Linked DNA regions of Homo sapiens: regions 1 and 3 are each linked to region 2. The links come from fine-mapping of genetic effects on gene expression. A gene starts in region 2. Each other region holds a variant in brackets. All regions are shown on one strand. Distances are between the middles of the regions. Region 1 has its middle 16 kb from the start of IQGAP1. Region 2 holds the start of ZNF774 (zinc finger protein 774). Region 3 has its middle 34 kb from the start of NGRN.

The links. PIP is the estimated chance that this variant, and not a neighbour inherited with it, causes the effect.
Region 1: its variant is the best candidate, but not a certain one, in a credible set for the expression of ZNF774 in tibial nerve (GTEx, PIP 0.53).
Region 3: its variant is the best candidate, but not a certain one, in a credible set for the expression of ZNF774 in tibial artery (GTEx, PIP 0.72).

Annotation. Positions count from the first base shown.
Region 1 is chr15:90,368,637-90,376,820 of GRCh38, forward strand. No RefSeq gene overlaps it. Among named protein-coding and RNA genes, the nearest start is that of IQGAP1, 16 kb to the right of the region's middle. The variant C/T (reference allele first, on the strand shown) is at 4,301.
Region 2 is chr15:90,347,279-90,355,462 of GRCh38, forward strand. It overlaps ZNF774 (zinc finger protein 774), which reads left to right and starts at 5,006. Exons shown (of 4, transcript NM_001004309.3): 1 at 5,006-5,133; 2 at 7,364-7,486. The coding sequence starts at 7,383. It also overlaps the pseudogene GABARAPL3.
Region 3 is chr15:90,295,437-90,303,620 of GRCh38, forward strand. It overlaps the pseudogene GOLGA2P8. Among named protein-coding and RNA genes, the nearest start is that of NGRN, 34 kb to the left of the region's middle. RefSeq lists a silencer at 4,685-4,877 and enhancers at 5,222-5,982, 8,141-8,184. The variant C/T (reference allele first, on the strand shown) is at 4,711.

The sequences.
Region 1 (8,184 bases), 21 kb after region 2:
TTAAGCAATAAGGATACACAAACTAATGAAAATCAAAGGATTTACTAATACAAACTTCAGTATAGTAATTAATTGGAATGGGAGAGAAAGATGCAAAGTTTCTATTTCTTTTTTTGTTTTGTTTTGAGACAGTGTCTCATTCTGTTGCCAAGGCAGGAGTGCAGTGGCAGGATCTCAGATCACTGCAAGCTCAGCCTCCTGGGTTCAAGTGGTTCTTCTGCCTCAGCCTCCCAAGTAGCTGGGATTACAAGCATGCACCACCACACCCAGCTAATTTTTGTAATTTTAGTAGAGATGGAGTTTCACCATGTTGGCCAGGCTGGTCTCGAACTCCTGGTCTTAAGTAATCCGCCCACCTCTGCCATCAAAGTTTCTGTTTCTTAAGTTGGCTGCCGAGTACACAGGTTTTCTTTGTAAAATAATTATTTAAATTGTTAATATGCATTACTTATATGCTTTTCATTTACAATGTATTTCACAAGAAAAATAAAACAAAGCAAATAAGAAAACAGAACACTTCTCCAGAGATTGATCTTTTTCACTCAAATCTCATTGAGTTATACTGAGGGGGAAAAAGAGTAATCTGAGTGCCTGGGCCCTGAACAGACACACTAGATCAGTTCCTTCATTCCCACTCAAACACATGCACACACACGCACAAACACACATTTTCTTATATTTCCTTCAGCAAACCCCCCGCCCCACCAACCAACCCCAAAACACCCTCTGCTCCTTTATGTATATAAATTAGAGCAGATAAATGTCCAGAAGATTATAGGCCATCTTTCTATAAACAGCCAATCTTGGACCTGGTGTCTGAATGGGGGATGCCCTGCTGCATTAAAGATGCTCATGTGAACATTTTGTTGTTTCCCAGAAAAAAAGTTTCCACATTTTAGATTATTTTCACAGGGTGAGAACAATTTTACACCTCCCTTACTTGCTGCAGAATCTTTTTTTTTTTTTTTTTTTTTTTTTTGAGACAGGTCTTGCTCTATCACTCAAGCTGGAGTGCAGTGGCACGATCTCGGCTCACTGCAACCTCCGCCTCCCAGGTTCAAGCAATTCTTCTGCCTCAGCCTCTCGAGTAGCTGGGATTACAGGTGCGCACCACCATGCCCAGCTAATTTTTTGTATTTTTAGTAGAGATGGGGTTTCACCATGATGGCCAAGCTGGTTTCAAACTCCTGACCACAAGTGATCCGCCCACTTCGGCCTCCCAAAGGGCTAGGATTACAGGTGTGAGCCACCACGCCTGGCTGCTGTGGAATCATTTTTAAAGTGATTGTATCAATTTACAGTGTTCCGAACAGTAAATGGCTACTAGTCTCATCACACCCTCATCTTTAAAAAAGTTTTGCTAATTTAATAGACATGATTCTTACATATTGTCTTAATTTGCATTTCTTTGCTTACCAGTGAGGTTGAACATTTTTTTCTATGTTAGAATCTTTCTTGTATTTCTTCTGTTGTTTTCATTAGAGTAACTCAGAGCAGGATTGGGAATCTGAAAACATGAACATTTGATTTTGAGGAAGTCATTGTTTTCCTGTTGTCTTCCTTCCCCCTCTCTGCTTTATTATTTTTTACTTCAGGTTCATTTATAGAAATATCAGAAAATACAATTAAGCAAACAGAGTAAATTCCACTTCCCAGAGATAACCACTACCGTTTGTTGTATATCCTTTTAAGCTTTTTCTCTGCCAAAAATATTCACAAATATATCGCTTATTCTTTCTGAGCCTGTTTCCTCATCTATCAAATGGAATACTTGTTCTTCAAGTTGATAATTAACTGGTGGGAGCACATGAAAGTATTTTATAAAGTGCACAAATGCAAGTTGCTGCTCTTATGACAAAGAAAAAATGTATTTTATTCTGCCAAGCAGAATGATGACACTTTGTTTCCTGAACACAGCCTGCTCTCTCCAGTACAATTTCTTCTCTCTAGAATAGCTTCTTGCTTCAATTCCTCCTGCTGAACTACTATCTACTCTTTTTTTAAAAAAATCAATATTAAAATATACAAAAATTAGTGTAAAGAGCAACCACGTACCCACTATACAGCTTAGGAAAAGAGTCTGGCATTTCTCACTCCTATGCCTTTATATATACTTGCTTTATTTCCTGTCTCTCTATATATACATACATATATATTTAGTAAGAGCAAAAATACAGTAAAGATCAGGGAAGGTGCGGTGGCTCACGCCTGTAATCCCAGCACTTTGGGAGGCCGAGGCGGGCAGATCACGAGGTCAGGAGTTTGAGATCAGCTTGACCAACATGGTGAAACCATGTCTCTACTAAAAATACAAAAATTAGCCAGGCGTGGTGGCTCATGCGTGTAGTCCCAGCTATTCAGGAGGCTGAAGCAGAAAAATCCCCTGAACCTGGGAGGTGGAGGTTGCCGTGAGCCAAGATTGTGCCACTCACTCCAGCCTGGGCGACAGAGTGAGACTCCATCTCGGGGAAAAAAAAAAATACAGTAAAGGTAAAAAACAGGCAAAACTAAATATATTGCTTAAGCAATAATGATACTCATACAAACTAATGAAAATCAAAGGATTTACTAATACAAATTTATAGTAGTTAATTGGAAGCATATGTATTATATAAATATACATGTATTATACATATATGTATATATGTATATATATAGAAAAAAGCAAATATATGTATATATACATATATATCTATATATGTAAAATTTTTATTTATAAAATGTTTTTGAGCATGAAATGATATATCATTGTGGTGTTAATATGCGTCTTAGCTGGGCATAGTAGGTCACACCTGTAATCCCAACATTTTGGGAGGCTGAGGCAGGAGGATTTCTTGAGCTCAGGAGTTCAAGACCAGCCTGGACAGCATAGTGAGACCCCATCTCTAAAAAAAAAAATAAAAATTATCTGGCGTGGTGGCTGATGTCTGTAGTTCCAGCTACTCAGGAGGCTGAGGTGGGAGGATCACCTGAGCACTGGAGGTCAAGGCTGCAGTGAGCTATGATCATGCCACTGCACTCCAGCCTGGATGACAGAGCCAGATCCTGTTTCAAATAAATAAATTAAATTAAGTTAAAAAGTATCTCCCTGATTAGTGGGGAAGTTACCCAACTTTTTTTTTTTTTTTTTAGACAGAGTCTCAGTCTGTCTCCCAGGCTGGCATGCAGTGGCACGATCTTGTCTCACCGCAACCTCCACCTCCTGGGTTCAAGCAATTCTCCTGCCTCAGTCTCCCGAGTAGCTAGGATTACAGGCATGTGCCACCATACCCGGCTAATTTTTTGTATTTAGTCGAGATGGGGTTTCGCCATGTTGGGCAGACTGGTCTCGAACTCCCGACCTCAGGTGATCCTCCCACCTGGGCCTCCCAAAGTACTGGGATTACAGGCGTGTGCCACCGTGCCCAGCAGTTACACAACTTTTACAAGTTTATTGTTGTTCATGTTGCCTCTTCAGGGAATTTTGTTTATAAAGTACCTATTCTTCAAGGCCCCATTAAAACACCTCCCTCTCCATAAAGTATTTCCAGATCTCCTCTATCAAGCAGATAGGATTTCCTTTGGACTTCTATAATCCTTTCTTTCTACATCTTGGGTTTCACTCACTTCTTATTTCATCTTGCATTACAGTCACTTGTGTACTTGTCTAAAGGGCAGTGACTATGTTTAACTCAACTTTATGCCCTTGTTCATACTAGTACAAAAGTAAACATTTCATAAATCTTTGTTGAATCAAATCCTACTCCTCCCCTGCTTATAAAATCTTAAATCATTTCCTATTGTCTACAGACGAAAGTAGAATCTCGTTTAATGTAGAATTTAAGACCCTTCCACGGGCTCTAGCATCAACCTTCCTTTCTTGCTCTTCTCCTGGGAGGACCTTGCTTTCCGCCCCAGATACTAGATTCTTCATCCACAGTAAGGTCCCAGTCCACTAATGTTTGGCTTTTCTCTCTGTAGCTGGGATGGCAGGTTGGTCCCACCCATTTTAGTTGCCTATAAAATTCTTTTTTTTTTTTTTTTGAGATGGAGTCTTGCTCTGTTGCCCAGGCTGGTATGCAGTGGCATGATCTTGGCTCACTGCAACCTCCGCCTCCTGTATTCAGGCAATTCTCCTGCCTCAGCCTCCCGAGTAGCTGGGATTATAGGCAACTGCCACCATGCCCGGCTAATTTTTGTATTTTTAGAAGAGACGGGGTTTCACCATGTTGGCCAGGCTGGTCTCGAACTCCTGACCTCAGATGATCCGCCCTCCTCGGCCTCCCAAAGTGCTGGGATTACAGGCGTGAGCCACCGCGCC[C/T]GGTCTGAGCCACCGCGCCCGGTCTGAGCCACCACACCCGGTCTAATTTTTGTATTTTTAGTAGAGGTGGGGTTTCACCATTTTGGCCAGGCTGGTTTTGAACTCCTGACCTCGTGATCTGCCCGCCTCGGCCTCCCAAAGTGCTGGGATTACAGGCTTGAGCCACTGCGTCCAGCCCAAACTCTTTAAGAGAAAATCTCTTGGGATCTTGAAGCCAGAAGCTTGCTTTTATTACTGAGTTTGCCCTGAATCTGTCACTTATGTACTAAAAATACATAAATTTCCTTATCCAGGTGACTTGGGCTCAACTGAAGGAAACCTGAAGCATCTAAATGTTAGCACCTAAGCCTGAGTCTAGGTGCCAGCATAGCCTGTCTTCCCTCTCCAGAGTCAGAGGCATGTTACAAACAGAATATATGGACACACGTCGAACCCCACATTGTATCTCTCTAATTTATTCAATTTAATTCAGTAAACACTCATTACCTCTTATATCCAGGCCTAGTTGAGGGTGCTGGGGATACAGGTATAAACATGACAGTTCTCTTGAGGAGCACAGAGTGGTTGTGGGAAACAGACATACAGACACACAGTTTCTTTCTTTCTTTTTTCTTTTTTTTTTTTTTTTTGAGACAGAGTCTCACTCTGTCCTTCAGGCCGGAATGCAGTGAGGTGATCTCAGCTCACCACAACCTCCACCTCCTGGGTTCAAGCGATTCTCCTGCCTCTGACTCCCCAGTAGCTGGGATTACAGTAATGCGCCACCACACCCACCTAATTTTTGTATTTTTAGTAGAGACAGGCTTTTGCCATGTTGGCCAGGCTGGTCTCAAACTCCTGAACTCAGGTGATCCGCCTGCCTCGGCCTCCCAAAGTGCTGGGATTACAGGTGTGAGCCACCATGCCCGGCCCAGACACATAGTTTCAATACAAGAAGTATATGTCAGCCAGAGAAGGGCTATCTTGAGAGTCAAGGAAGGCTCCCTGGAGGAGGTATCACTTATGCCAGTTGGTACATGAATGAGTAAATGCAAACAAGCCATGATACTGAAATAAAGCTTTGTTTAATTAACCTTCACATGTAAATTCAGCCACAGAAGACATTCTGATACATGGGGGCATTGCCAGTGATTCCACGAAACTGGATAATGTCATTGATGCTTGTGGTTGAGAGAGCTTGTTTCTGTATTGTAAGGAAGGTGGTACAACCTGGCCTTTCTTTTAAAAAAAAAAAAAAATTCAAACTGGACATGTGTCAATGAACTGACTGGAGTCTTAGGGAGGAACATTGCTCCATAGCTATATGTCTCTCCCGTTTTTTCCTGTGTTAGTCTTTTTTTTTAATTTTTTTAAAATTTTTTTGAGACAGAGTCTTGCTCTGTTGCCCAGGCTGGAGTGCAGTGGTGTGATCTTGGCTCGCTGCAAGCTCCGCCTCCCGGGTTCAAGCAATTCTCCTGCCTCAGCTTCCCAAATAGCTGGGACTACAGATGCATGCCACCATGCCTGGCTAATTTTTGTATTTTTAGTAGAGACAGAATTTCACCATGTTGGCTACACTGGTTTGGACCTCCTGACCTGAGGGGTTCCACCTGCCTCGGCCTCTCAAAGTGCTGAGATTACAGGAGTGAGCCACCTTGTCTAGCTCTTTTTTTTTTTTTCTTTTGAGACAAGTTCTTGCTCTGTCTCCCAGGCTGGAACGCAGTGGTGCAATCACAGCTCCCTGCAGCCTCGACCTCCCCAGCTCAAGTGATCTTCCCACCTCAGCCTCCCCAGTAGCTGGGGCCACAGGCATGCACCACTACGCCCAGCTAATTTTTTTTATTTTTTGTAGAGATGGTGTCTCACCATGTTGCACAGGCTGGTATCCAACTGCTGGGCTCAAGCAATCTTCCTGCCATGGCCTCCCAAAGTGCTAGGATTACAGGCGTGAGCCACTGTGCCCACGTGTTAGTCTTTACATAACTGAATAGTGACTGAAGTCTTGCAGTTTCTACCTTGCCCTGCACTGGCATTATAAGTTGTAGTAGAAATGTCACTCATTGCTTGTAATCTCATGAGAGGCCTAGTTAGATTTTTCTGTACTCTACTTCCAGAGGAGCTTATAGGAAGGTGACTTTCCATAAAGGATGTGAGCTTTCTACCACCCAAATATCAGTCGTAAAGAAAATGAGGAGTGATAAAGAAAGAAGGTATTGAGAGGTGAAGCCAGCTGGGCTTCTAGGTTGGGTGGGGACTTGGAAAACTTTTCTGTCTAGCTAGAGGATTAAAAACGCACCAATCAGCACTCTTTGTCTAGCTAAAGTATTGTAAATGCACCAATCAGCACACTGTAAAAACGCACCAATCAGCACTCTGTGTCTAGCTAAAGGACTGTAAACGCACCAGTCAGCACTCTGTAAAATGGACTAATCAGCAGGATGTGGGTGGGGCCAAATAAGGCAATAAAAGCTGGCCAGCGAAGCCAGCAGCAGGCAACCCACTCGGGTGCCCTTCCATGCTGTGGAAGCTTTGTTCTTTCGCTCTTCACAGTAAATCTTGCTGCTGCTCACTCTGGGTCCGCACTACCTTCATGAGCTGTAACACTCAATGCGAGGGTCTGCGGCTGCATTCCTGAAGTCAGCAAGACCACAAACCCACCGGGAGGAACAAACAACTCCAGATGAGCCACCTTTAAGAGCTGTAACACTCACTGCGAAGGTGTGCGGCTTCACTCCTGAAGTCAGTGAGACCACGAACCCACTGGAAGGAAGAAACTCCGGACACATCTGAACATCTGAAGGAACAAACTCCGGACACACCATCTTTAAGAGCTGTAACGCTCACCGTGAAGGTCCGTGGTTTCATTCTTGAAGTCAGCGAGACCAAGCATCCACCAAAAGGAATAAATTCCAGACGCAGTATTTACAGCCCAGTGTCCACCCATTCCCCATGTAGCAACCCCTGGTACCTGAGGAAAAAGGTCACAGCCTCTGCCAATGGTGGGGCATCTTTCCGAAGAGGTTCCACTTGGACTTTTTGAAACATCATGTGGCTGTGCTGTTTGAGAAGCCTGGGGTGAAATTAACTATACAAGAATCAGGGCATGATCACACACGCACACACCTTTGCAATTTTTCTGGCTTTGTTTACACTGTTACTGCAACTTGTGCCCTTTCTCACCCTTTTCATAGGTCTTCCCTGCAAAGTCTTTTTTTTTTTTTTTTTTTGAGACGGAGTCTCGCTCTGTCGTTCAGGCTGGAGTGCAGTGGCGTGATCTCGGCTCACTGCAACCTCCGCCTCCTGGGTTCACGCCATTCTCCCGCCTCAGCCTCCCGAGTAGCTGGGACTACAGGCACCTGCTACCTGGCGCAGCTAATTTGTGTATTTTTAATAGAGACGGGTTTCACCGTGTTAACGAGGATGGTCTCCATCTCTTGACCTCATGATCTGCCCGCCTCAGCCTCCCAAAGTGTTAGGATTACAGGCCTGAGCCACCGCACCCGACCCATCAACTGTTCTCTTATCTGTGCTCCTAGATCTCTATCTTGATGTCTGAAAGCTTCTTGAGAGTGCTTTGTCAGGTCTATGTCCATCACATTCTTTGGTGGATGTGGCCTCACAAATCTTTCAACTCAGCCCTCTAGGTCCTCATGTGCATTAGTGGAGAATAGCGTTCACATATGTGGGCTTTGGGTCCAATGCAGTTTGAATACTGAGTATGTCACTAACTAGTTGTGTAATTTTTGGAACATTGTTAACCTTTCTGATTTCAGTTTCCTTATCCTTAAATTGAAAATTCTAGTAGTTCCTACCTCATAGGATTGTTGTGAAGGTCAAATGAGATCAAATACTTACAACTGGACCTAAGGGGCACTCATTATGAGTTAGCTGTTGTTACTAGTAAC
Region 2 (8,184 bases):
CCCATGGCTTATTGAGACTAGAGAATGGCGATGACTTTCACCAAGTATACTGCTTGTAAACATTTTGTTAACAAGGCACGTCCTGCACAGCCCTGGATCACTTAAACCTTGATTTTATACAACACATGTTTTTGTGAGCTCCAAGTTGGGTCACAGTGGTTGGGTCAAAGTGGCTGGGGCAAAGCTACAAATTAACAACATCTCAGCAAAGCAATTGTTTAAAGTACAGGTCTTTTTCAAAATGGAGTCTCTTATGTCTTTCCTTTCTACATAGACACAGTAACAGTCTGATCTCTCTTTTCCCTTCACTTGGCCTGACAGCATTGACTTCATTACACAAGAACTTGCAGCTGACAGAACTGACACACAGATTTCCCCCAAGAGGAAGAACCCTTTTCATTTGCAGAGATGAATTGAAATGTCATGTCTGAGTGCAATTCCTGCTCCCCACTCCCACCCCACAAAATCCTATAAGTGATAATAAATCAATAAAATCCCCATGATTTACTAAAAGTCATCCCTGCAAACCTTTCTAACTAGCAGCTGCAGTGGATAACCAAGAAGGGAAGCAGCTGGCCATCACATAGCATTCCTGTGAGTGTGAGAATGAAGGGACAGCAGCATGGGAGCGAGAATCCTGAATGAGTGAGAGGTATAGATAATCTACCTCACTTCATACCTGCCCCTTCCCTACATAAGACATCTCTGTCCTGATACATGGAAAATACTAGAGGAGATGGTAGAAGTGGTTTTAGTCTGCAATTGGAAATGCCTGAAGCTTATTAAATTCCAAGGTAGGGGTGAGATGAGGAGCACCAGAGAGAAAGAGCAGGTTAGACAGAGATGCTCAACTCACTCTGTCAATTCCAGTTTAATGCTATTTAACAACAAAATTATCTTCTTAATCATAACCACCCTCATGCCTAACCCCTATTTTCCAAAGATAAGAGATCCCTGTCTAAATTTCTGGGTTGGTGTCTACTGCCGCCCCTGGGGTGGTACTGTGATGTTTGTGAGTGAGATTGCAACTGGGATGGGAGAAAAGAAGTGTGGGATACGGAAGATCGGGGGCCACGATGCATCAATTACAGTGGGTCTCTTTTCGTCCCCAGGTATGGCCCACTACCACAAGTCCCCTTTCCCTACCTGTCTTGTGCAACTGTCAAAAACAGAATCTCTGCCCAAAGAGAAGGGAGCACAGGGAGTTGCTGCTGGACTGCCATCATCTCTGACCCCAACTTGTCCACCTCCTGACCGACCTTTCTATGAAACTGCACAAAAATTAAATCTCAGGAATGCCATAAAATTACATCATCCCCATTCCTCTATCAAAGCCAATCCAACAGCTCTGTCCTGACATGCTTTCTCCCTGGGCCAAGGAAGCAACAAAAAATATCAGTTGAGCATGTGAAAATGCGTTGACGGTGTGTGCGGTGTAAAGTTTCTATATGTCTTCACCTTCTGTCTCCTCACGGTGGGAGCCGCCCTCTCTTTCCCCAAGTCACACACACACCCCTCCCCTACCCCTAAGTCCAGGTGCTTCCATCTGCTGGGCTTCCAACCACTCATTTCCCATAGACACTCTCATTACTGTAGGCCACATACAGAAAATCATCTTCCTCATGACTGTCCTCATATAGTTGGCCCATGGTAGCACTAGTGGGAGGGATAGTGTTGTTGACAAAGAAGAATAAGGCGTCCTCAGGTCTCAGGTGGATTCTCTTCCGGATTAAAAGGTAGAACTGGCCATCGGTAAGGTCGGAGGGCACTAGGTACTTCCTCCTGTCCAGATCAGGCACCCTTGCTTTTGGAGCCTTCTCTACAATCAAGGGGACCCTGTCCGGATATTTCTTCCGGATCTTTTCTCCTTCCTTTTTCCGATACTCAAAGGGATGGACCTCCTTGTACTGGAACTTCATGGTGAATCACAGGGCTTCCGTGATCCCCGCGCAGGGCCTGCCTCCTTCGCCGCTGACCGCTGGCCACGTCCCGCTCCCTCCGCCGACGTGTGCTTAGAATAGCTGCAGAAATGTCCGCTTCCGGGTCAACAGCACTGGTCCAAGTGTGCGGGAGGGCAGAAGGTGGGGTGGGAGGGGGACCTCGGGTGCGCCTGCCTGGAGGTAGAGGAGAGCCAGGTGGAGAAATACCGGCGGCTTTTCCAAACAGCTGGGAGCACAAAAACCAAATATTTGGTTTTTTAAACCAATAAATTTTGGGGTAATTTGTTACACAGCAATAGATAATGATAGACTCTCTCTTTAAAAAAATCAGTTCTGGCAGGGTGCGATGGCTCACGCCTGTAGTTCCAGCACTATGGGAGGCCAAGGCGGGTGGATCACCTGAGGTCAGGAGTTCGAGACCAGCCTGGCCAACATGGTGACACCCCCGTCTCTACTAAAGATACAAAAAATTAGCCGGGCGTGGTGGTGCACGCCTGTAATCCTAGCTACTTGGGAGGCTGAGGCAGGAGAATCGCTTGAAGCCAGGAGGCAGAGGTTGCAGTGAGCTGTGATGGTGCCATTGCACTCCAGCCTGGGCGACAGGGCAAGACTCTGTCTCAAAATAAATAAATAAATAAATAAATAAATAAATTCAGTTATAGCAAGTGCTGAAGTCTTTCTGTCTTTTCATGCTCCTTGAAGTCCTTTCACAGTTTTTCCTGGCTCTTCTACGCCTCCTCTCGGCCACGCCCTTTAGCACCCAACCCCTCAACAGGTAATGATCCTCTCTTCACGTGGCCATTGCGGGTACATGATTGGTTTCCTGTACTGACTGCTCTTCTCGTGAGACCAAGCTTCCTTTCCCCTACTCCCCACACACCTGATCATTGTGAACAAACCGCCGAGAGAACAAGGTAAGGCAGAAGGAACAGAAGCTGCAGAGAGCGGCAGGGGATAGCCACCAGCCAGATTCTGTGACTCTTCATTCATCTCCCCACTCCAGTCCCAGATTGAAGAATAATCTTCATGATCTCCTTAATGGCAAAATGCTAGAAAGACTTACCGAGGGGTCTGAAGATGCCTTCGGTTCTCCAGGTCCTGAACTCTGTTCCAGTTACAGGAGGACTGGCAATCCCTAGGTTTCCTGGGTGTTACTTTGTTACTGACCTCCTCTGAGATTTCCATTTTCCTCAATTTCGTCTAACTAAATCTAACTACGTCTAACTACCTCTGCTAACCAGACATTTGTTCATAGTCGACAGAGTTTCCGAAAATGCAATGTAGTTACCTTGCAGATGACTATAATTGTGTAGCAAAATAACTAAGATGCCACTGGCTATATGGAAAAAAAAATTACTTAGGATTTTGATACCTTTTATGGTTTATTTCCCCTTTTGGCCTGTGAACTTCATGAAGGTAATGGTTATGTATGATTCCCGAGTAATCACAGTTCCCAGAACGATCTTTTTTTTTTTTCTTTCTTTTTTTCTTTTTTGAGACGGAGTCTTGCTCTGTCGCTCAGGATGGAGTCCAGTGGCGCGATCTCGGCTCACTGCAAGCTCCACCTCCCGGGTTCACATCATTCTCCTGCCTCAGCCTCCCGAGTAGCTGGGACTACAGGCGCCCGCCACCACGCCCGGCTAATTTTTTCTATATTTAGTAGAGACGGGGTTTCACCATGTTAGCCAGGATGGTCTCGATCTCCTGACCTCGTGATCCTCCCGCCTCGGCCTCCCAAAGTGCTGGGATTACAGGCGTGAGCCACCACGCCCTGCCCCCAGAACGATCTTGAGAACAGAATGTTCCCAATAAATATCCACTGGAAAATGCACCTTATTTTTGTTGAAGGAATGGTGGAATTAGCATCAAAGGGATCTTCAACATTAACTCGGGCCGGGCACGGTGGCTCACGCCTGTAATCCCAGCACTTTAGGAAGCCGAGGCGGGCGGATCACGAGGTCAGGAGATGGAGATCATCCTGGCTAACATGGTGAAACCCCGTCTCTACTAAAAATACAAAAAATTAGCCGGGTGTGGTGGCGGGCGCCTGTAGTCCCAGCTACTCGGGAGGCTAAGGCAGGAGAATGGTGTGAACCTGGGAGGCAGAACTCGCAGTGAGCCGAGATCGTGCCACTGCACTCTAGCCTGGGCGACAGAGCGAGACTCCGTCTAAAAAAAAAAAAAAAAAAAAACTCTATGGCTGGTAATTCTAAGCGTTTTATAATACATCACAAAATGTTCTTTTATTTTTCTAAATTGCACTGAATCAACAAACGGAGTAGACAGGCACATTTTCTTCACTTTAAGGAAAGACTTTGTTGTTTTTTAGCTAGGGGCCGACCCAAAGTGATCACTGGCTCTCACATGAGACCCAGGAGCCTCCCCAGTTTGAAGCCCGATATCACATTTCCCAGAATACTTGATGCCCTCGCCCGCCTCCTCTGGCTATCAACCAGACGGAAAGGGGATGTGCCTGGGAGTTTGATGCCAAGGGAAGGATGCGGAATGTCTGTTTTCTACTAAGGGCTTCTGCTGGGCCTTTCCAATGTCCAGTTTGAGTTGGTCTGGGACCTGGCCTCCGCAAACACCCTGCAGGCTCCGGCCGCCGGGGATGAGGTGGAAGACTGGGCAGAAGAGAGGCCGCAAAGGCCCGAGGGCTGAGCTGCTCTGCGCTGGGGAGGGGCGAAGTGCCAGAGCGCGGGAGACCTCATGGTGGGCACCAGGCTGCTCCGCGGTAGGTGGGTGAGGCCAGGAGATTCACATCTGCAGATGCCACAGTGAGGATACAGCATTTAGATCCCTCGGCTCCAAACAGGCGGTTCCGGGGGACCGGTAGCTGGGGAATTGGGTTTAGCACTTTCCAACGCTTGGAACTGGACATCCACGGCTCCGAGTCCTTTGAGGTCTTGCTCGGGACTACGTTTCCCAGAAGGCTAGGCGATAATTGACAGCTCTATCAGCCTATGGACAGAGAAAAATTCTAGCCATGGAAACTGAAAAGCCAATAGCAAGAGGATGGGGGCGGTACTTTCCGGCCGCTGGCTGTCGAAGCCGGAGTCCCACCTGTGTCCCCACAGCCCTGTCACGAATCCCGGTCGGGTTCTGGGAGGCACAGCCTCGGGGTTGCGGGCCGGGTGCGGCTCGGCGGTGGAGGACTCACTTCCTGCTCCATCCCCGGCTGGGCCCTGGGGCGGTGAGTGATTCAAGGAGGGAGACCGCGGCGGCAGCGGCGCGCTGCTGAGGGGCGTGGAGGGGGCTTGCCCGCCACCCAGACGTTTTCTCAGCGGGGTTCCCGCGCTGGCCTTTGGGAGCCCCCGGGTCTTGCTGGGCTGTGGGAGAGGTAGCTGTGGTCTCTATACCGTCGGCGGGATAAGTCATTCTCTTAATCAGTTTTCTTGCTTCTCGATGGTGGTCCCAGGGTTTCAGCTGATCTGTGACCCTCTGACCGCCGCACCCCGGTTAGGGCGCGAGCACCGAGAAGAAGAACGGGGTTCGGCCCCACGCGTGCAGTCATGTTCCTATTAATAAACCCGGTGAACGCACTGGAGCTTCTCACAGTGGCACTTAGTCACAGCCCCTCAGCGCTGTGGGGCCTTTGAGGTCACCTGTGCATGGGGAAAGGGACGGGCTGGGAAACAGGGTTTCTATAACCGTGGCTAAGACGTCTCCCCTCCTCAGTGGCGCTGTCTCCAGCAAGTGGGCCCTGCAGCTGTGTTTTGTAATGAATGTAGAAATAAAAATTATACTCAAAACTCTTTTTTTTTTTTAGACGGAATTTCGCTCTTGTTGCCCAGGCTGGAATGCAATGGCGCTATCTCCTTTCACTGCAGTCTCCACCTCCCGGGTTCAGGCGATTCTCCTGCCTCAGCCTCCCAAGTAGTTGGGATTACAGGCGTGTGCCACCACACCCGGCTAATTTTGTATTCTTAGTAGAGACAGGGTTTCACCATGTTGGCCAGGCTGATCTCGAACTCCTGACCCCAGGTGATCCGCCCGTCTCGTCTTCCCAAAGTGCTGGGATTACAGTCATGAGCCACAGCACCTGGCCAATACTGAAAACTCTTATTACAATTTTTACTTTCTAATTACATTATTGTTGTTTGTTAAAGTTTTAAACCAGAGAGATGGTTTTTAGATCCTTAAAAACTCAATACTTTATAAATGACCAATAATAATGTCTGTAAATACAAAAATATTTCCCCCAAAAGTGTGTGTGTGTGTGTGTGTGTGTGTGTGTGTGTGTGTGTGTTCCAGTAGTAAATAGGTGATTTGTAGTGGGACAAAAGATGTGAAAGAGTAAAACTTCTTCACCACAGTCTGGTCCTTCCTCCCTTGAAATGCAATATTCTTTGTAGTGGGTGGTCATGCTGGCTGCATTTTTTTTTTTTTTAAGGGAGAGACAGGGGCTCACTCTGTTGCTAGGCTGGGGTGCAGTGGCGCCATCATAGCTCACTGCAGCCTGGAACTCCTGGGCTGAAGTGATCCTCCCACTTCAGCCTCCTGAGTAGCTGGGACCACAAGTGCATGCCACCATGCCTGGCTGATTTTTAAAAGTTCTTTGTAGAGAAAGAGGTCTCAATATGTTGCTGAGGCTGGTTTATTGGAAACTTTTTAAGGGAAAAAACATTATCTTAATTTCTATGTGACTCCTATGCCTGGCAACATATTAATTGTTGAATAAATGACTGATCCATCCAGTAATTCACTCTTGACTATCCTCCAAAAAGTAATGTTTTTCATGATATTGCTGTCGATTTATTAATATATTAATGATTGGTTTCAGCCCCTAAGAGTTGTGTTTTGTGCTTATTCCCACTTTCACTTATTTTTACAACCTATCCATGTCTTCTTTTTTTTAAAAAAAAAATGTCTTTTTCAGTCTTATTTCTGACTCCATTAAGATCTTGAAATAGAATGGTATCCAACACAGTTCCCTTTGGGGTTCTGTATAATCTGTCCCTTGAGGTTGACACCAAATCTGCAAGCCAAGAAGTTAGCTGCTCCCATAACTAATATGAGTATAGTTAAGGCCACAATTTCCTTGCTTGCTGAGGAAAATGAAGTTGGGGAGAATCAAAAGCTTTCCAGAAATCAAATTACACCTGCCAACTCTCTCCTTTGTTTACCTTGTTCATCGTGGACAATTTGTTCCTCAAAAAGTCAATGTGTCTAAAAGACTGGGTTCTGTCGATGTGTTTGGGAGGCCTAGGCCTCTCTTAGTAATGGGAAAGTTGGCCAGGAGAAGACGTATGTAAAAACAGACTTAGAAAAGCACCCCTCTGTGGTTGACAGAATTTACCTCAGGACCATTCTGGTCAGGTGTGGGGGGTTGTTTGTGTACACTGGTGGCCATTTTTTGGCTTTCAGACAATGGTGAGAATATCTAGGGAGCTACTGATGCACATTGAGGTCTCTTGCTTTAGGAACTGATGACGCTTGATAATGTGGCTGGGGACTTCAGGGAAGAGTGGGTTACCTGGACACTGCTTAGAGAATCCTCTCCAGGAATGCCACCCAGCACAGTTAGAAGAATGGGCTCTCAAAGGGTAAGAATGCTACTCTCCTTTATTTCATTTATTTATCTTGTTTTTTTTGAGACGGGGTCTCGCTCTGTCATCCAGGCTGGAGTGCAGTGGCGCGATCTCGATTCACTGCAATCTGTGCCTCCTGGGCTCAAGCGATTCTCCCACCTCAACCTCCTGAGTAGCTGCGATCACAGGCATGTGCCACCATGCCTAGCTAATTTTTTGTGTTTTTAGTAGAGACAGGATTTTGCTATGTTGGCAAGGCTGGTCTCACTATGCTGTCCAGGCTGGTCTCAAACTCCTGAGCTCAAGCAATCCACTGGCCTCCGCCTTCCAAAGTGCTAGGATTATGGGCGCCACCATGCCTGACCACTGCTCTCCTTTAATTTGAGACTTAGATATTTGGAGAGGGCCCAGGTCTGAGGAGTTTCTGGTATGTTGGCATCTTAGAGCTCCAGACCTCTGTAAGATTAATTGTTGCCTCCTTGGGAGAAAAACAATTACTTCCTTATGCATTTTATGGTTTGCAAATGTCTTTGCTATTTATTGTCCTTTTAATATCTCATCATAACTTTTTGACTTATGTATTACTATCCCCCTTTTCCAGCCTGGGTTGGACTCTCACCTCTGCCACTTAACTTCTGAGACTTCTGAGGTCTTTGTGGAAAAGGAGGTAATTTTTTCTGTCACTTAAAAACAGGCTGGGGGCAGTGGCTCAC
Region 3 (8,184 bases), 52 kb before region 2:
CCCCCCAAGAGCTTGTGTGTGCTGACAAGCAGGATGGCCAGTAGAACCTTCAGGCAGGGTGAGCAGGCAGGAGCAGGGGAGGCTCGCATGGCGCTCCGATCCCCTCCTCCCTCTCTCCGAAGATCTTTGTGAGGTGAGCCTCACTGACAGCGTGGAGCCCGCACCAGGAGAGGCCAGGGAGGGTTCTCCCCACGACAACCCCACTGCACAGCAGATCATGCAGCTGCTTCCTGTAACGCAGGACTCCCCAGGAGCACCCAGGCTTGGGCAGCAATCTCTGCATGCCTTTCTTTTCGAGCTGCCGAGAACAGGGAGATAAACACCACCATCATCTAAGAGCTGGTCAAGAAATTAAAAAAAAAAAAAAGTTAAGGGGTTAATCTCCTACACAATTCATTTACTTCATTTGAATGTTAGAGCCACTCATGTTTATTTGTGTTTCTAATTTATAGTTTAAATTTTATTTGTAAAAAGTTAAAGGAGAGTGGGTCTTTTCCTCATGTTCACTCTGGCATCCTTTAGCATGTTTCTTTTTTAATTTGATAATTGTAGGTCATTAGCATGCATATCAAGTTTGCCCTTATGTGGTGGGTGTTCAAACACACAAAGACCCACTATTTGCACAAAACTATTCTTCCTGGTTTGGGATAGGCTGCCATGCTTTTTTAATGTTATTGCAGCATGTATATTTATTATGGAATTCAGATAAAATTTGCTTATGTTCTGCTATTATGTTTGATCGAATCCTAATCACAGTGAGCTCTTCATCAGCTCAATATGTGGTTTGCCCTGAAGTGCGCGGTCTATTACTTTGTAATATGCCACTGTGAGTACTGACATTTACAGTTGCTTAAAGGCGGAGCACTGGAAACAGCCTTTCCCCCTTTTTCTGTGTATTGGGGATGGGAGTAATAACATTTTGGGGAGCTTTTTAAATCTCCCAGAAGAGGAAAGTGGCCTGCTCTGGCAGGTATGTGCAGGATAGAGTGTGTTTTATTTGTTTTGGTGCCAAGAATGAGCACTGTACTATGGTAGTTCCCTTAGGATTTGTATGTGTTCTGGGCTTATGAAGATATTGCATCATGAGCTGTGGCAGTTGTACTCTTTTTTGATGACCTAAAAAGGGCTTATTTCTGAGGAATGAAAGGCTCCCATCGTTGATTGTGGATGTGGAAAACCTTTCCTAGCTTAGAGCATTTATATCTATAACACATTTTAAAGTCAGAGTTCATGGTCCCTGTTTTAATCACGTGACTACATGTCCCAGTACACAAAAGGGCACTGGTTGGCATTCTTCTTAATGTATTTAGTAAAGATCATAAGAAATCCTTTAAGAGTTTAGATGTCCCTGAAACAGGCATACAGGCTCTAGTCAGGAATGAATTCGAGTGAAGGAAAGCTATGTGACACCTGGCATTCCTCTCTGTTCACGGAGCTTCTCTGAGGCTAGAAGATTAATTTTACCATCTAGACCTCTCTGGCTCATACCTATTCTTCAACCACATTGGCTACTTTGACATAGGAAATTACTTCTTTTCCTTGAATGGAGAACACTTTAAAAATAATATTATAAATGAATATATGTGAGAGTACTTGGTTGAAAGAAAAAGGAGTTTTAGTAGACAGTATTATTCTATATTTGAAAATCAAGGAGAAGTTTATGCGACTTAAAATGTTTACAAACTGCAGTGCAATCTACTGTTTGTGAATGTCAAAGTCTTATCAGGAAAAGTGTCTGTACAATCACAGAGTCCTACTTCCTCCGAAAGTTCTTTACGAAGAGTGAAATATGTTTTTGTACCTTTCAGTTTCAGTTAGAGGCATATTTTGTGCAATATTTATGTGAATGCGCCTATATATTATGAATGAATTATTTCAGTCATATGTTGCCTAAATCATAACTTGATGATGCTTGGGAAAGAATCAACAGTTAAAACCTCATGAAGTTCTAATGTCTGTATTCCAAAATACATCACATTATTAGGATGTAGGGAGAGATGTATGTGCGCTCCCTGGTGTGGGGATTTGTAGTTACTAGACCGTCTCCATTTGGCATCCTCATGATACTTTTATAAATATGACATTAATAGGAAAGCAGTATTATTTTTCAGACAAAATAACTGATTTGCCTGGATTCACGGAAAAAAATGCAAATATTGGGTCCTTGTGACTTCAACTGACTCTTCCAAATTGTATGAATTTATTAATGTATTAGATAAACCTAGTTTCAGAATGATAAACTGTTAGACCAAATAATGTGGCTAATTAACAGTGGTACGATTTCTAGCCCGAGGGTTTAAAATGGACTTAAGGTCCTGTTGTTGCCTTTTATTTTCTGAACTTGCTGCTTTTGCATTCTTTGAGTTCAGTTTAAAGACAGTTACTTTAAGTCCATTTTAAACCCTCGGGCTAGAAATCGTACCACTGTCAATTAGCCACATTATTTGGTCTAACAGTTTTTCTTTATCATTCTGAAACTGGGTTTATCTGATACATTGATAAATTATTTCAAAGGTATTTTAATAGTTCAAATCACTTCACTTTTACATTGATAAATGTAAATGACTAGGAATGACCTTCGGATAGCGTTTAGCATCTGTAATCAATCTGACAATAATGTGTTCATCAGGTACCTCTGGATTAACTCACATACCGGCATACTTAAGCTGAATGTCTGTCTGGAAATAAATTTACTATATTAACTGAGATACTACTTTTTGTGTAGGTATTTTTGTCATATATTTAAGAAAAAGCTAACAAGGATGGAAATCATATTATAATAACTTAAGTCTTTCTTCAAAGGGCATGCAGTCTTTTGCAATACCTCATTCAGCCAGATATTTGTTCTCTTTCTCATTCAGTATAAGACAGCTTTCAATTTGCTTAGCAGGCAACATTAGAAGGTTAGAGTTCATGGAAACATAGAATTTTAAAATGTGAGTTCAACCGAATAAATTTGAATTTCTGTAGGAGGTAAAGAATCAAAATACTTGTTTATTTAAAGGTTGCAGTATATGATAATCATTTTGAAGTATTTGATTAATACTAATAGGTTTTCCAGAACTGAAAAACTAATGTTAAAACCAAAGCTGATTTCTAGAAAATTTGAAAATGTAAATCAGCCTTATCCAGAATATAGTTTCTCTAAAACTTTCTTAGTCATTTTACAATAGTATAACTATTAAAAAATGTAACTGCTATTTTAATGTTTTGAAATAAATTAAAACATTTTAAAATATGAATACTGTAGCTTAAAAGAAAGAAACTAGGGGAAGGAAAAGTAAAGAAAGAAATGCCAATTCCAGTCCAAAACTTTATTTGCCAAGTTTTCTTATAATGACTTACCAATTTAGGAATTCTTGTAAACAGAATCTATAATGGAAATACTGAAAGACTTTTGCCTAAAGTGGCATTATTGAATACTGCTGTGATGCTACTGTATGTAATAAATTATTGTTGCAAAGTGCTGTTTTTGCCTTAAATTTTTATTTTGTGTGTCTTGAAAACTATAGTATTAAAGGTATTGAGATTGTGCAAATGCCAGGCATGCTTGGCATGAAATAGTGTTTTTATTTTTACAAAATTGTAATATGACTATGCAAGCATTTAACTAATTAATTAATTTATTTATTTTGAGATGGAATTTCACTCTGTTGCCCAGGCCAGAGTGCAGTGGCACGATCTCGGCTCACTGCAACCTCCACCTCCTGGTTTCAAGCAGTTCTCCTGCCTCAGCCTCCCGAGTAGCTGGGACTACAGGTGCACGCCACCATGCCCAGCTAATTTTTGTATTTTTAGTAGAGATGGGGGTTTCACTATGTTGGCCAGGCTGGTCTCAAACTCCTGACCTCGTGATCTGCCCACCTCAGCCTCCCAAAGTGCTGGGATTACAGGCGTGAGCCACCGCGCCCGGCTGCAAGTGTTTACCAAAAGAACACATACTGAAAAAATAGTTATGGGATTTTAAAAAGTTAGGAGATTAAAAAAAGTTATGAGATTTAAAAAGTTATGAGATTAAAAAGTTATGGGATAAAGTTACGTTATGGGATAAAAAAGTTACGGGATAAAAAATGTTATGGTCAGTGGCTCACTGGGCTTACAGGTGTGAGCTACCGCCCTGGGCCTAGTTCCCTGCTTTTGGATGACCGCGATCTTCATCTCATCTTCACCTGTCTCCCCCATCAGACACTTCTCCAGGCTTTGCTGAAAGTGGCCTGCTTTTATTTATTTAATATTTATCACATAACTTTTTTTCGTAAAACTTTTTTTGGAATATTTTTCCATAACTTTTTCCATAACTTTTTTCCCACAACTTATTTCCAAAACTTTTTTATTTTTATTTTTTTGAGACGGAGTTTTGTTCTTGTTGCCCAGGCCGGAGTGCAATGGCACAATCTCAGCTCACCGGAACCTCCACCTCCCAGGTTCAAGAGATTCTCCTGCCTCAGCCTCCTAAGTAGCTGGGATTACAGGCATTCACCACCACGCCTGGCTAATTTTGTATTTTTAGTAGAGATGGGTTTCTCCATGTTGGTCAGGCTGGTCTCAAACTCCCTATCTCAGGTGATCCACCCACTTTGGGATCCCAGTACTTTGGGAGGCTGAGGCGGGCAGATCACCTGAGGTCAGGAGTTCAAGACCAGCCTGGCCAACATGGTGAAACCCTGTCTCTACTAAAAATACAAAAAATTAGCCAGGTGTGGTGGCGGG[C/T]GCCTGTAATCCCAGCTATTCGGGAGGCTGAGGCAGGAGAATTGCTTGAACCCGAAAGGCAGAGGTTGCAGTGAGCCCAGATGGCACCACTGTACTCCAGCCTGGGCAACAGAGCAAGACTCCATCTCAAAAAAAAAAAAAAAAAAAAAGTTACAGAAAAAACGTGATTAAAAAAAGTCATGGGATAAAAATAAAAACAAAAGCAGGCCCCTGTCAGCAAAGCCTGGAGAAGTGGGGCCAGAGGCTCCACCCCCACCATGTCCCTGCCACCCCTTCCCAGTCACCCCTTTACCATTAGAGTAGCAAGACAAGACCCCTGTCTAATAGGGAGAGACAAACAGACCCTTTGCCACCCTGGCCAGGGCTGAGTCCTTAAATTTCTGGATGATGATGATTGTTATTTAAGAGGCAGAGGCTGATGGGAGTTGGTTTGTTCGGAGGAGGCCTCATGGCCTCCTTACTTTCACCAAAGCAATTTTTCCCTCAGGCTCCCGTCTTCTTAGTCAGAGAGGCAGCTGAGGCGGGACAGTGGGGCTAACTGTAGACCAGGCAAGGGCATGAGCTGCTGAGGGTGGCCCCCCTTCCCCCATGTACACATTGTGTCTGTGTAACGTTTTATATATTCTGGGGGGTAGGGCCGCCCCTGTATAGTACCTAGTGGAGATTGGAGCTGGCACATGGCGGGGAGGTTCTAATAATTATTTGCAGCTGGGGAATTTATTTGATAGCATAGGACAGAGGAAGGAGGCGGGGATGGGGTCGTGACTTCCTGGCGATGCAACTCCTGTTTATTTTGCTTTTTATTTTGGAATAAATGGATTTAGCCATACTGCTAGCCTGGTGTGTTCCTGCTTCCCCCACTGGGTCCTGGAGTTTGTGCCACTGAACGAGGAGCCCCAGAGTGTCCGAGCATGTCCAGCTGGTCTGTTGGGGACCTTCCAGACCTGTTACCTGTATGCTGCCTGGTGACGCGTGGGGGAGTCCACAGGGACTGCCATGGCGCCTACGGGGCACAGTCCGGCCCTGACGGCCAACAGGCTCAGAAGCCTGATCTAGCGGTGGCCGGGAAGGCAGGATGCCAGCACCCACGGGCACTGACTTCCATGCACCCCAGGCATCTTCCTTTCCGCCCCACTGCCTCCCTCGCCTGTCTGCACCTGGTGGCCTGTTCGACATGTCTGTCCCTCCAGAGTGCCGGCTGCCCCTCAGGCTCCTTCCGGGCTGAGTTCATGGCCCTGCCCCCTAGTGGCCAGAGCAGGCTTCACAGGATGAGAGCCAGCTAAGCTCCAGGGGCTTTCCAGGAAAAGTGTTCCTTGGAAAGGATGTGGCCTTTTCACCGCTCCCAGTACCCTAGTAATGGCTTGGCCTTACCCCTCCCCTGAGCTCCAAAGACAACACAGAGAGCAGAGGACACATTCCGCGTCATCCAGAAATGGGTTTGCTTGTCAGCCAAGGGAGAGCAGGACTGGTAGAGACTGTCAGGCCACACGGCACCCCCCATTCTTGGCAGGGGGTGGGAGGGATGGTGGGGCTGGCTGTCCACAGGCCGGGCATGACAGGGAGGCCCACTGGAGGTGGCGCACTTTGGAGGGGGGATGTTGGGGAACAGATATGGGTCTCAGTAAAGAAATCTGCTCTTTTACAATTCCTGCACCAATTTGCCATACTTGGAGATGACACATAGCAGCTTGTTTTTTACTTTTTCAAGAAAGGATATCATGGAAAGAAATCGAGCTGCCTTTCTATGAATAGAACTCAGTTGCCTTCCAGCCATAGGCTGCATGCTTCAAAATGTTCTTCAGAAATAAGAAATGGGTTGAGCTGCACCATCCACAGCCTTACCCTGAGCGTTCCCACCATGACCTCTAGCACATACGAAGTGCTTTGGTTAATTATGAAACCAGTGAAAATGAGATGAAAAGTCCTATTCTCATGCAGACCCGTTGGGTTATGCAGAGACAAGGTCGCAGGGACACAGCCCTAACCACAGTCTGCCCTCTGGAAAACACGTGTCTGTTCACATGGAAATGACACAAGTCTAGTTCTCGTCCAAAAGTCATGCAGCAAAACAAAAATGTCTGCAAAACTGGCAAGAGTTTTTACCATGACTTTAATTTTGAGGGTGCTCTTTAGCAGAGGCTGTTGATGAAGGAAGAATTCTATCAACCAGGACCACTGAGCAGGAATGAATCTATAGCTCCCTTTTTTAAGGCCAGAAAGGACCTTAAGTTCCTTTTGTTTCCGGAGGAGGGACCTGAAGCCTAGAGATGACAAAAGATTTGGCTTCTTTAAAGGATCCATCCAGCCCCCTCCATGAAAAGGAAATGAGCCAGTGTTGGTTTCAGTATTCTAAACTTTTGGAAAATGGTAAAACTGAAGGACATTGAACAAAATTACTAGGGTTTTTTCTATCTTGTTCAGTGAGTGTCAACATACTACATGTTTTTCATAATGGTTAGTTTTTATGATAAAAATACATTCTCATTGTATAAAATTTGGGAAATTCCAAAACCTATGGAGAAGAAGATTTATCCATAACCCCACAATTTATTCATTTGCTTATTCCAGCAACAAATAAAAGTGCATGCCTTACTAAGAGCAGGGCATGTTCCAAGACTGACTATCCAGAAATGATAGCCTTGAATTGATTCCCTTCCAACCCTTTTCTCAATACACTACTACTACTAATTTTAAAATCAGGTTATTTCGTTTTGGAATCTCCTTTTCACTTAATATATCACAAACCTTTTCCCAGTTTATCAAATAATATTCCAAGCTATGATTTTAAAGCTGCCTCACCTCAGCTCACATCATATCACATCACATCACATCAGTTTACATTATTAAACCATTCTACTTGGGACATAAGAGATGATCAATTTTTCAACATTATAAATAATGTTGCATGTAATATTCTTTGGTCACATACCTGATTATCTTTGGAAAGCTTCCCTAGGATTCAGATTGTTAGATCAAAAGCCTTAAATATTTTTCAGGTTCTAGATACACAATGCTCGATTGCTTTCCTTTTTTTTTTTTTTTTTTTTTTTTGGGGAGACAGAGTCTTGCTCTGTCGCCCAGGCTGGTGTGTAGTGGTGTGATTTCGGCTCACTGCAAGCTCCGCCTCCCCGGTTCATGCCATTCTCCTGCCTCAGCCTCCCGAGTAGCTGGGACTACAGGTGCCCGCCACCACGCCCGGCTAATTTTTTGTATTTTTAGTAGAGACGGGGTTTCACTGTGTTAGCCAGGATGGTCTCGATCTCCTGACCTCGTGATCCACCCGCCTCGGCCTCCCAAAGTGCTGGGATTACAGGCGTGAGCCACCATGCCCGGCCCAATTGCTTTCTTGAAAGAGTGTAATAGTTTTACTTCCACCAGCTACAAGAGTGTGTTTCAGTCATACAGCAAGGCCTGCCTCTCGAAACAACACCTATGGGTTAAAAAAAAAAAAAAGTCATTGTCAACTGAGTCAAA